Linked DNA regions of Homo sapiens: regions 2 and 3 are each linked to region 1. The links come from fine-mapping of genetic effects on gene expression. A gene starts in region 1. Each other region holds a variant in brackets. All regions are shown on one strand. Distances are between the middles of the regions. Region 1 holds the start of LINC03033 (long intergenic non-protein coding RNA 3033). Region 2 holds the start of PRKCH-AS2 (PRKCH antisense RNA 2). Region 3 overlaps LINC03033 (long intergenic non-protein coding RNA 3033).

Region 1 (2,762 bases):
ATCCTGAAGAAATATGCTGACAATGGGGTTTTATCTCTTCAATGCACTGGAGACAAAATCCCTGCTTTTAAAAACAACACTCATACAGAGCCAAGGATGTCCCAGAGTGAACAGTCCTAACCCTTTCTCAGCCTGCCTAAGAGCTCGTTGGTTTCAGAAGGATGAGCCAAGGACTGCTACTTAGAGACTACTGTCTAGGTCAACCCAACTGGCATAAGTAAAGCACCTACTGTTTATAGTAGGAGGCTGCAAGATAACAGGAGATGCAGACTATTGAAGGCTACTGATCTATCTGTGTAGACAGGCAAGAATAAAACAACTGGAGAAGAAATCCAGGATTACACAAAAAGAAGAGCGTGATGGTATGGTAGACTACTCCAGAACAGTGAATTTCCCCTGCATTAAGGATGAGATCCCTATGAATTGGGATCATTCAGGAAGTCTTCTTGGAGAAGAAAAGTTTGAGCATATGGGGAAAAAAAGTTGGATTGGCAAAGAGCTGAGCTGTCAGTAGCTGGGTCCTTAGTAAGTAGGCTGCATGGAGCTGGGAGTTATGCTAAAGGAGTTGTAATTTGGGATGCCTCTAATTAACCATTTTGGGAAAAATATAATAAATCCCTTTGTAGCATCTATAATAAACTGCCCAATATCTATGTGGTGGGGAAAAAGTTTTATTCTACGTTTCACGTGGATGGTGATAACACTAGGTAATCTCAGCATCTTTCTTATTCTCTTGCTAATCCAGGATTCTAAGTAATAATCACTTTGTTCTACAACCTGAATCTAGCCCTTGTACTGTGCAGTTTTTTTCTACACTTATTTTTCCTGTTGTCTGAATCAATCTCCATGGAAGCATAAGTTTTACTGAGTTTCAACCAGCTGTGTCCACCGAGGTAAAGATGGTAAAAATAAAAGGCACAGGGCATATATACCACAGCAGCAGTTACTTCCCACAAGGAACCAGAGATTGGAAGTGAAGCTAAAACATTTTCAGCTACGATAGCATCTCTTTCAAGGTGAGCCATTTCCCCAGGGAGAGTTTCCAGCTCTTAGCAAAGGCAGAACAATAAAACATCAAGGATGTCTTTCTAAGGCTGCAAACAGAATAGCCAATACCTTGAAGCTGATCTGCTTCAGAGTCCTTTAAAAGCCAGGACAGCAACAAAGTGCCCACATTACATTTTCTACAAGCTTGCTAAGCATCTCTTTTCCTAAACCACAAAACCCGAGACATTTCTACAGAACAGGCAGAAAGGGAAGTCCTGGGAGATCAGGGCCCTGTCTCAGCAGGCATCACTCCAGCCTGTCTTTTCCCGAGTGGTTTTCTGCACTTCTCTTCCATCTTTTCCCCTCTGTCCCACACTGGAAGTCACTAGTCTGTGCCCTCCTTACCTCCCATGGTTTCTGCACCTTCATTTCCAAAGGCAAGTGAAAACAGTGCCAGGCTGCGCACATGGGTTACTCCAGGGACTTCTCTTCCCGTTTCCCCTAAAGCATTTGACAGTTAGATCTTGGAACTGAGTCCAGCAGCACTGAGGTCAGAGAGATGGCTAAAGCTAAAAGCAAACTGGATGCTGTTCAGGAGGTTCTCCTTTGTCATTTTTATCTCCAAATAGAAGACCTCTGTTTTCCCAGAAGATTAAATAGTAGAAAAGAAGTAGCCCAAGGTGGGTGACTCTGCAAACAGGTGGGTGAGGTCTCTAGTTGAGTGAGGGGGTGTCTGTGGGTTGTGGGTTCTTCTTATGAGCAGAGCTTGGAGGAATTTGTTCTATTTGTTGTGGTTTTCCCAGGGGGAAGTCGGGGGTGGCTGGGACTCTAATGATCATTATCAGAAGACTTTGGATTAGGCCTCTGAAACTTTAAGATGTGGATCCTCTCGCAATCATGTTAAAATGCAGATCTCCTTTCAATAGGTCTGGGACAGAGCCTGGCTTTTCTATAAAGCTTCTGGTGATGGGATGTCGCTGGTTCTCAGCCACAATTTGAGTAGCAAGAGGTTAGCTTTTCTACTTACTGCCTTCATATCCCCAGTTGGGCTATGTCGTTTTATCAAAACAATGTGGTAAGAGTGAGCGCCAATTACTAGCCTGTTGAATCATCCATTGTTAGAGCTGTTTCTTTGAGGTACATTTAAGAGGCCCCTCCCTGTGGTTCCCCATTGCACAAGAAGCCCATTTGCCAGGCAATACCTTGGGCAAGCAAGCCACTGTGCAAAATTGCATTGGCTCTTCCTGCTGCCAGCCAGGCGGCTGCTGGTTGACGTTGGAGTTGTACAGTTTATGTGATAGTGATGACAGCGCTGGCTCTGAAGGGTACTGAAGATTTTGAAGGGGTACTTCGCTGCAGCAGCTTCACCTCTCACTTTTGTTTACCCACCCCCGAGGCTTGTGGGAGAGAAGGATCAGGCAGAGCTCTGCACGTGCCATGCCAGGGGTGGAGGAATTATATTTTTATTTTTTGCTTTCTCTGCTACAGGACATACCATGCCTTTTACAGATATTTATAGGACAATTTCCCTCCTGAGAGTGCCCAAGCATGGGGGATGGTGAGGAAGATGACTGAAGGAGAAAGCAGGAAAAGGGGGTGTCTGCATGTATGAGGATTGGAAGGTGGGGAAAACCCTTCGTGTTTGGTTCAGCCTTCAAGAAAGAGGAGGGGTTGACTAGATTACAGATGTTAAACCAGGGGTCTGTGGTTCAAACCAGCAACTCTCTGCCCTTGTAAGCTGTATCTGGCTGGTGTGTTAATTTGTCTAGGGTAAG
Region 2 (2,762 bases), 26 kb after region 1:
GGCAGGACCCAAAAGTAAATGCAGCATTCAGAGCTGCACAGGCCCAGTCAGAGCAGCTGCCACTTCAGGCACTTACAGTGGTCACCCAGGATTCAGGAGATGCATATTATAAGTAACTCAGTTCTGTAAGAGCTAGGAGTTAGTTCACACTGCTTGGGCTCTCACTAAGTAAGCCTGTGCAATGCAGGCAGGAAGGGAGAAAATGCTTACAAAAAAGAAATGAGTAGATTCTTGCCTTAGGAAAGTCAACGGGATACAATTCCTGATGGAAGAGCAGTTGCTATTCTAAGAGCTAATTAACAAGAAACAATGCTGCAAAAAACTTGGGAGACAGGACGGCAGAACACACCCAGATGGCCTGTGGGAAATTCCCAGGCCTGCCAATGATGTGAGAGAGGACATCTTGTGAATGGGTGGGTACAGCCTGTTCTTCTGGGCAAGACAAACAGTGCAGGACTCTATATGCCAGGGTGGCTGAAGCCCCAGTGTCCAAGAGGCTTGCCCATTCCTCCCTGCCCCTGGCACTGAACCCAAGCTTCCATGGGGCACTGTGGAAGAGGCCTTGCCTGACGACAAGTAGACCAAACACGACCGTCCGTCCTCTAAAAACTGCACCCTTGGAATTGGGGACAGGCAGAATAACCCTTTCACTAGCTTGATACTTAGCCTCTTGGGGTTCTGATAAATCCTTTTGAATAACCAAGCAGTTTTGTTTTTAATACCTTGGCCTGAGCCCTTTAGATGCAGCCATCCTCAACTTACAAAAAAAACAAACCAAAAGAAAAAACAAAACACACACACACACAAACAAACTTTGATTCAATTGACAAAGGTTTTCAAGGTGTCTACTACATGTAAGGCAGCACACTAGGGGTTTCTTGGGGATACGCAGATGACAAAGACAGTGTCTCTTCATCCAGGAGCTAATCAAGAGAAGGGGGAAGAATCAAGCAAACTTCATAATACACAGCCGGATGAAATGAAAAGAGACTTAGATCAAGTGCTGTGAGAGCTTGGAAGAGGCACGGGGCAAATAACACTGGGGCTGGTGGTGGGAAGGCAAGTGACAGCCTCGTGGAAGAGGTGGCATTTGACCAGAGATGAGGACGAACAGAATTAACATAGTAGGCATGAAGGAAGAAAATGCGCCTGAGGACACAGCCAGCACAAATGCAGAGGCATACAAGTGCCTGGTACAGCTGGCATGCAGGGATGGCTGAGGAACTGCGGGGG[C/GC]AGCCGGTGGGATCCATCCGAGGTGAGTGATGAGAGCTGCACGGCAATTTAGGGGATGACACTAGCCACAGCGTGATGAATAAATCTTAAATGCAGAGGTAGCGCCTGGTGGTGAGCAGTTAGAGGCTGAGACAATAGCTGAGAACACATGACAAGTTCAGCAACTAGGAGAGTTTCTAGTTAATTGGAAGGAAGAGTTGGAAGCACATTCTAGAGGGCCGTGGAAGAATAAACACAATCCACTAACTGCCGGGAATGGGAGTGAAGAGTCCAAGATCACAGGGTCCTCCCTGGCTGCCTGATGGGGCAGTGGTGTTGAGTAACAGAAATGGAACAAAAGAGGGGCAAGAGATTATTCTTTGTAGCATGAGTATTAGTAGCAGTGTTAGTAGTAGTAGTATTTTTGTTAGTGGAACAAAGACAAAAATAGCTCACACTTACTGAGATCCTACAGTCTGCCAAATCTGGGAGGCTGATGGGCTCCGCTTTGCATTGGAGGTGTGTGGGCACCCACATGCAGATGAATTCTAGGGTAAATCTGGGGTGCAGGCCAGGGCTGGCCATCTAACGCTCAGAGACATTGAAATTTGAGTAACCACTGAAGCTGGGAGGGCAGGTTAGATTGTGGAAAGTGACAGAGACAGACTAGAACTGATACCAGCCCTAGGTCTCAGACACATTTTATTTGGCCTACCTAGTGTGTTTTGAAATAATTTTAATTACTTCTCAAATATTTAAACGCTAGGAAATGTCACATCACATGAAAAGTCAGGTTTTCCAACTTCTCGTGGAAAATGAGATACTCGGGAACACTGGGCCTGCACTCCTCTCATAGAAACGGCCTGGAGTTGAGCAGGGGCTTCTGCTTTTCATGGGGCACCAGATGCCCAGTCAGTCACATGCCCCACCACTCCCTATCACCTCCCACCTGGCTGGTATCACTCACGGACTTTCATGGCTCCTGACCCCTGGTGTAGGGTGAGAAGCAGCCAGAGTGGCAGCTGGAGGATGCCATGAAGAGGCCAGAGGAGGATGAATACCATGAAACAGAAACCAGGACCGGGAGAAGGAGGGTCCGGGGTGATACTAAGGGGGTAGAAGCTTTGTGTGTTGTGGTGGTGGTGGGGTGGCCCTTCTACCACTACCCCCGTCCAGTGATGTGGAGATGAGGAGTTAAGGGAACATTTAACATTAGTCCCAGGCCTGAAATCTTTCACAGTTCACGTTGGTGCAGATGGTGTGGAGTTGGAGGTGGATAGCTTGCCATCCTAGGCTGGGCACAGGCCTTTCCCTAAACTCTCTGTTCCTACTGCTGTGAATGGTGACAGCATAATCCTTTTGCAGAAAACTTTCATTATTTGCTTATGTCCCTAATGGGACCCAAATGCCAGTAAGTTAACAATTGTGCTCCTCGGGGCCATCACTTTCATCCACATTTAAGGTCACACTGAAAAGTTGCCTCACCTCAGCTGACTTTCTCCCTGACTGTGATCCAAGAGGGAAAGTCGGCCAAAGAGGAAAATAATGTG
Region 3 (2,762 bases), 83 kb before region 1:
CGGCTAATTTTTGTATTTTTAGTAGAGACGGGGTTTCACCATGTTGGTCAGGCTGGTCTCGAACTCCTGACCTCAGGTGATCCGCCTGCCTCAGCCTCCCAAAGTGCTGGGATTACAGGCATGAGCCACTGCCCCCGGCCAAATGCTGCTTTTTCTGATAGGTGTTCCCTGACTGACCACAGTCAGTAAAATAGCTCCTCCATTCATTCATTCATTCATTCATTCATTTATTCATTCTGGGTGAACTTCCATTGCAGTCCATCTATTTGGCTTCCTTCCTTGTCTTACCCTGTTTTTTTCTGAATGGCAGGATTCTCTTTGCTATACAGCCAATCAAAAAATATAATTTATTCTTCTCCTGTTAGTTAAATAATATTGTTTGGTTTATAGGTAGGGTTAATTTTTATTTAAAAAACATGTAGGTGTAAAAATTACAGAAGAATATACAAAACACTTTAACCATTTAATCTTCAGGTAGTAGGAGTTGTGGTGATTTTTATTTCCTTTGTTATACTTTTCTGAATTGACTGATTTTATTCCCAGTAAATTCAGTTTAAGATGACAAAATCTCTGTTTTTTGTAGTTATAAACTTGTACTAGTCATAAACATGTGCTAGCTCCAAGTGAAAAAATTAGTGCTGTTCAACATAAATTCTCAGGATATTATACTCGAGAGCCAGTAGGAATAAGGGCAAAGAAACAAGCGTTAAGGCAAGTAAATTAGATGATGAGAGAAAACCTAGTCTACAAAGTTACCATTTAAATCTTGAACTCCGGACAGCTATTTCATAAATGGTTTTCTTTGGTCATACAAGGTGACCATGGGTCATATAAGGTAATGTTAAAATCACAAGTCAGGGTTTCTGTCTGACTGCTGGTGGGTCAGATATCTTCCCCTCCCATGAAAGAAAAGTCATTCTTTAGTGTTAATAATCTTGTCATGTCTGTAGAAATGAGCACTTCCTCTTCCACCACCAAGCTCCCCACCCCAAATTCTGCTTGGGACATTATACTGCAGGCTAATGATCTAAACAAAATTAAGATTCATTAAATTAACAATTCCATTGTTCCTAATTAAGATTTTACTTTGCACTTAAGATATTGAACCATACATAGCCCTGTGTATATTTTTAATGCAAGCAAATATTAATGAAGCAAATTTGTCATTTTCATTTGTGTATTTTGGACAAAGGTTTGTTTATACTCAGTGAAATGATAATTTTT[TC/C]TGGTAATTTCTCCTTTTCCCAGCAAAGAATGCTTAATCTCCTTTCTGAAAATGATTTGATTTGGGCAGCAAATCCTACGTTGAGAATTCTTCCCAGATCTCAAGTTATATAACTGAACAGATGGTATTCGCATGGCTTTGACAGGTCAGGCTGCTATCACAGGACATCCTGAGGAAGCAGCTCGGAAGCCTTCCCGAGGAGAGTGGGAAGATCCCGTGAGCAAGCAGGCACGTGTGGCTGTGGGATTGGGTGAAGAACTGCACTCTGACTCAGCTTCCCATCTTCATGGCCCAGGAGCAAATTCCTCAGGATCCTGAAAGAGGTACAAATAATCCTGCAGAAACTAGTGGTACATTTGATTGAATCAGAAAAATAAACAAATCTTTCCTGTGGGAGAAAACAAAGTCTCTCAGGGAATGTGATACAGGAAGAGTGATTTGGTTTGTGGTCATGGTTGAAGTGCCACAGGTAGATGGACAGTGAATTGGATGTGTTCTAATTGTACCTTGGGCTTGCAGCATGATGGGGCAAAAATGGGAAAAATATCCCTGTCTTCACAGAGTTTGCAGCTTATTGGGAGAGAAAAAAATCACTCAGTCAATAAATACATGAACAAACACACACATGAGAGTGATAAGTGCCAAGGAGAAAAAAAAATGCTGAGAAGGGGGATACAGAGATATGTGTATAAAATTTTAGATAGAAATCCTCTTTTAAAAAAGATGTCATTTGAGTAAAGAAAGACCTGAAGGAAATGAGAGAGAAAACCATGTATATAGCAGGGAAAGAGAACTCCAGTAAGCAGAAACAGCCAATGCAAACGCCCTGAGCCAGGGAAATGCCCGGAGTGTCCAGGGACCCATAAAAATCCCCATGCGGCTAACGCAGAGCACACTGGGGAAGCAGTGTGCAAGATGAGGTTTGAAAGCCAGTGTGAGGTCAGATCATACAGAGTCTTGAAGTTCACAGCCTGGAATTGCCTTTTCATCTAAGTGAGATGGAAAACAGGAGGGTCTGGAGCAGACAAATGACATAATTTGGATTATTGTTTACTGGGATCGCTCTTTGTAGGAAATAGGTTGTGGGGCAGCAAGGGCAGAGGCAAGGGGCAGGGCAGTGAGGGGCAGGGAAGAAGCATCTAGAAGGCTATTGAGATAATTCAGGCAAGAGAGGAAGGTGGATTGGACCAGGATGGTGGCAGTCTAAGCAGCAAGAAGTGGGTAAATTCTGGATATATTTTGAAGGTAGAATCAACAGGTCTGGTTAATGGATTAGATGCATTGTATGAGAAAAAAAAAGAGAAGTTTAGGGTTATTCCAAAGTTTGGGGGCTACACAACTGGAAGGATGGAGTAGATCTGAGAAGCTTAATAAGAAGGAGGAGAATGTGGGAAGGGCAGGTTTGGAGGATATCAGGACATCTGTTTGGAATATATTATGTTTGAGATGTTGAGTGGGCAATTGAATGCACAAGTCTGATGTGCCAAGGAGAGATTTGGGCTGAAAATATAAATGAGACAGTCATCAGTACAGACAG

The links. PIP is the estimated chance that this variant, and not a neighbour inherited with it, causes the effect.
Region 2: its variant is fine-mapped to the expression of LINC03033 in blood mononuclear cells (TOPMed, PIP above 0.99). The same link has a PIP of 0.9 or more in whole blood.
Region 3: its variant is fine-mapped to the expression of LINC03033 in whole blood (TOPMed, PIP 0.96).

The regions. Positions count from the first base shown.
Region 1 is chr14:61,569,391-61,572,152 of GRCh38, reverse strand. LINC03033 (long intergenic non-protein coding RNA 3033) reads right to left here and starts at 1,613. Exons shown (of 3, transcript NR_039985.1): 1 at 1,393-1,613. It overlaps LINC01303 (long intergenic non-protein coding RNA 1303), which reads left to right and starts at 1,500. Exons shown (of 5, transcript NR_110416.1): 1 at 1,500-1,667; 2 at 2,476-2,609. RefSeq lists a silencer at 2,323-2,515.
Region 2 is chr14:61,543,587-61,546,348 of GRCh38, reverse strand. All of the region lies in intron 12 of PRKCH (protein kinase C eta), which reads right to left. It overlaps PRKCH-AS2 (PRKCH antisense RNA 2), which reads left to right and starts at 865. Exons shown (of 3, transcript NR_188139.1): 1 at 865-1,255. The variant C/GC (reference allele first, on the strand shown) is at 1,234.
Region 3 is chr14:61,652,400-61,655,161 of GRCh38, reverse strand. LINC03033 (long intergenic non-protein coding RNA 3033) reads right to left here. Exons shown (of 3, transcript NR_039985.1): 3 at 449-1,539. Among named protein-coding and RNA genes, the nearest start is that of HIF1A, 42 kb to the left of the region's middle. The variant TC/C (reference allele first, on the strand shown) is at 1,225.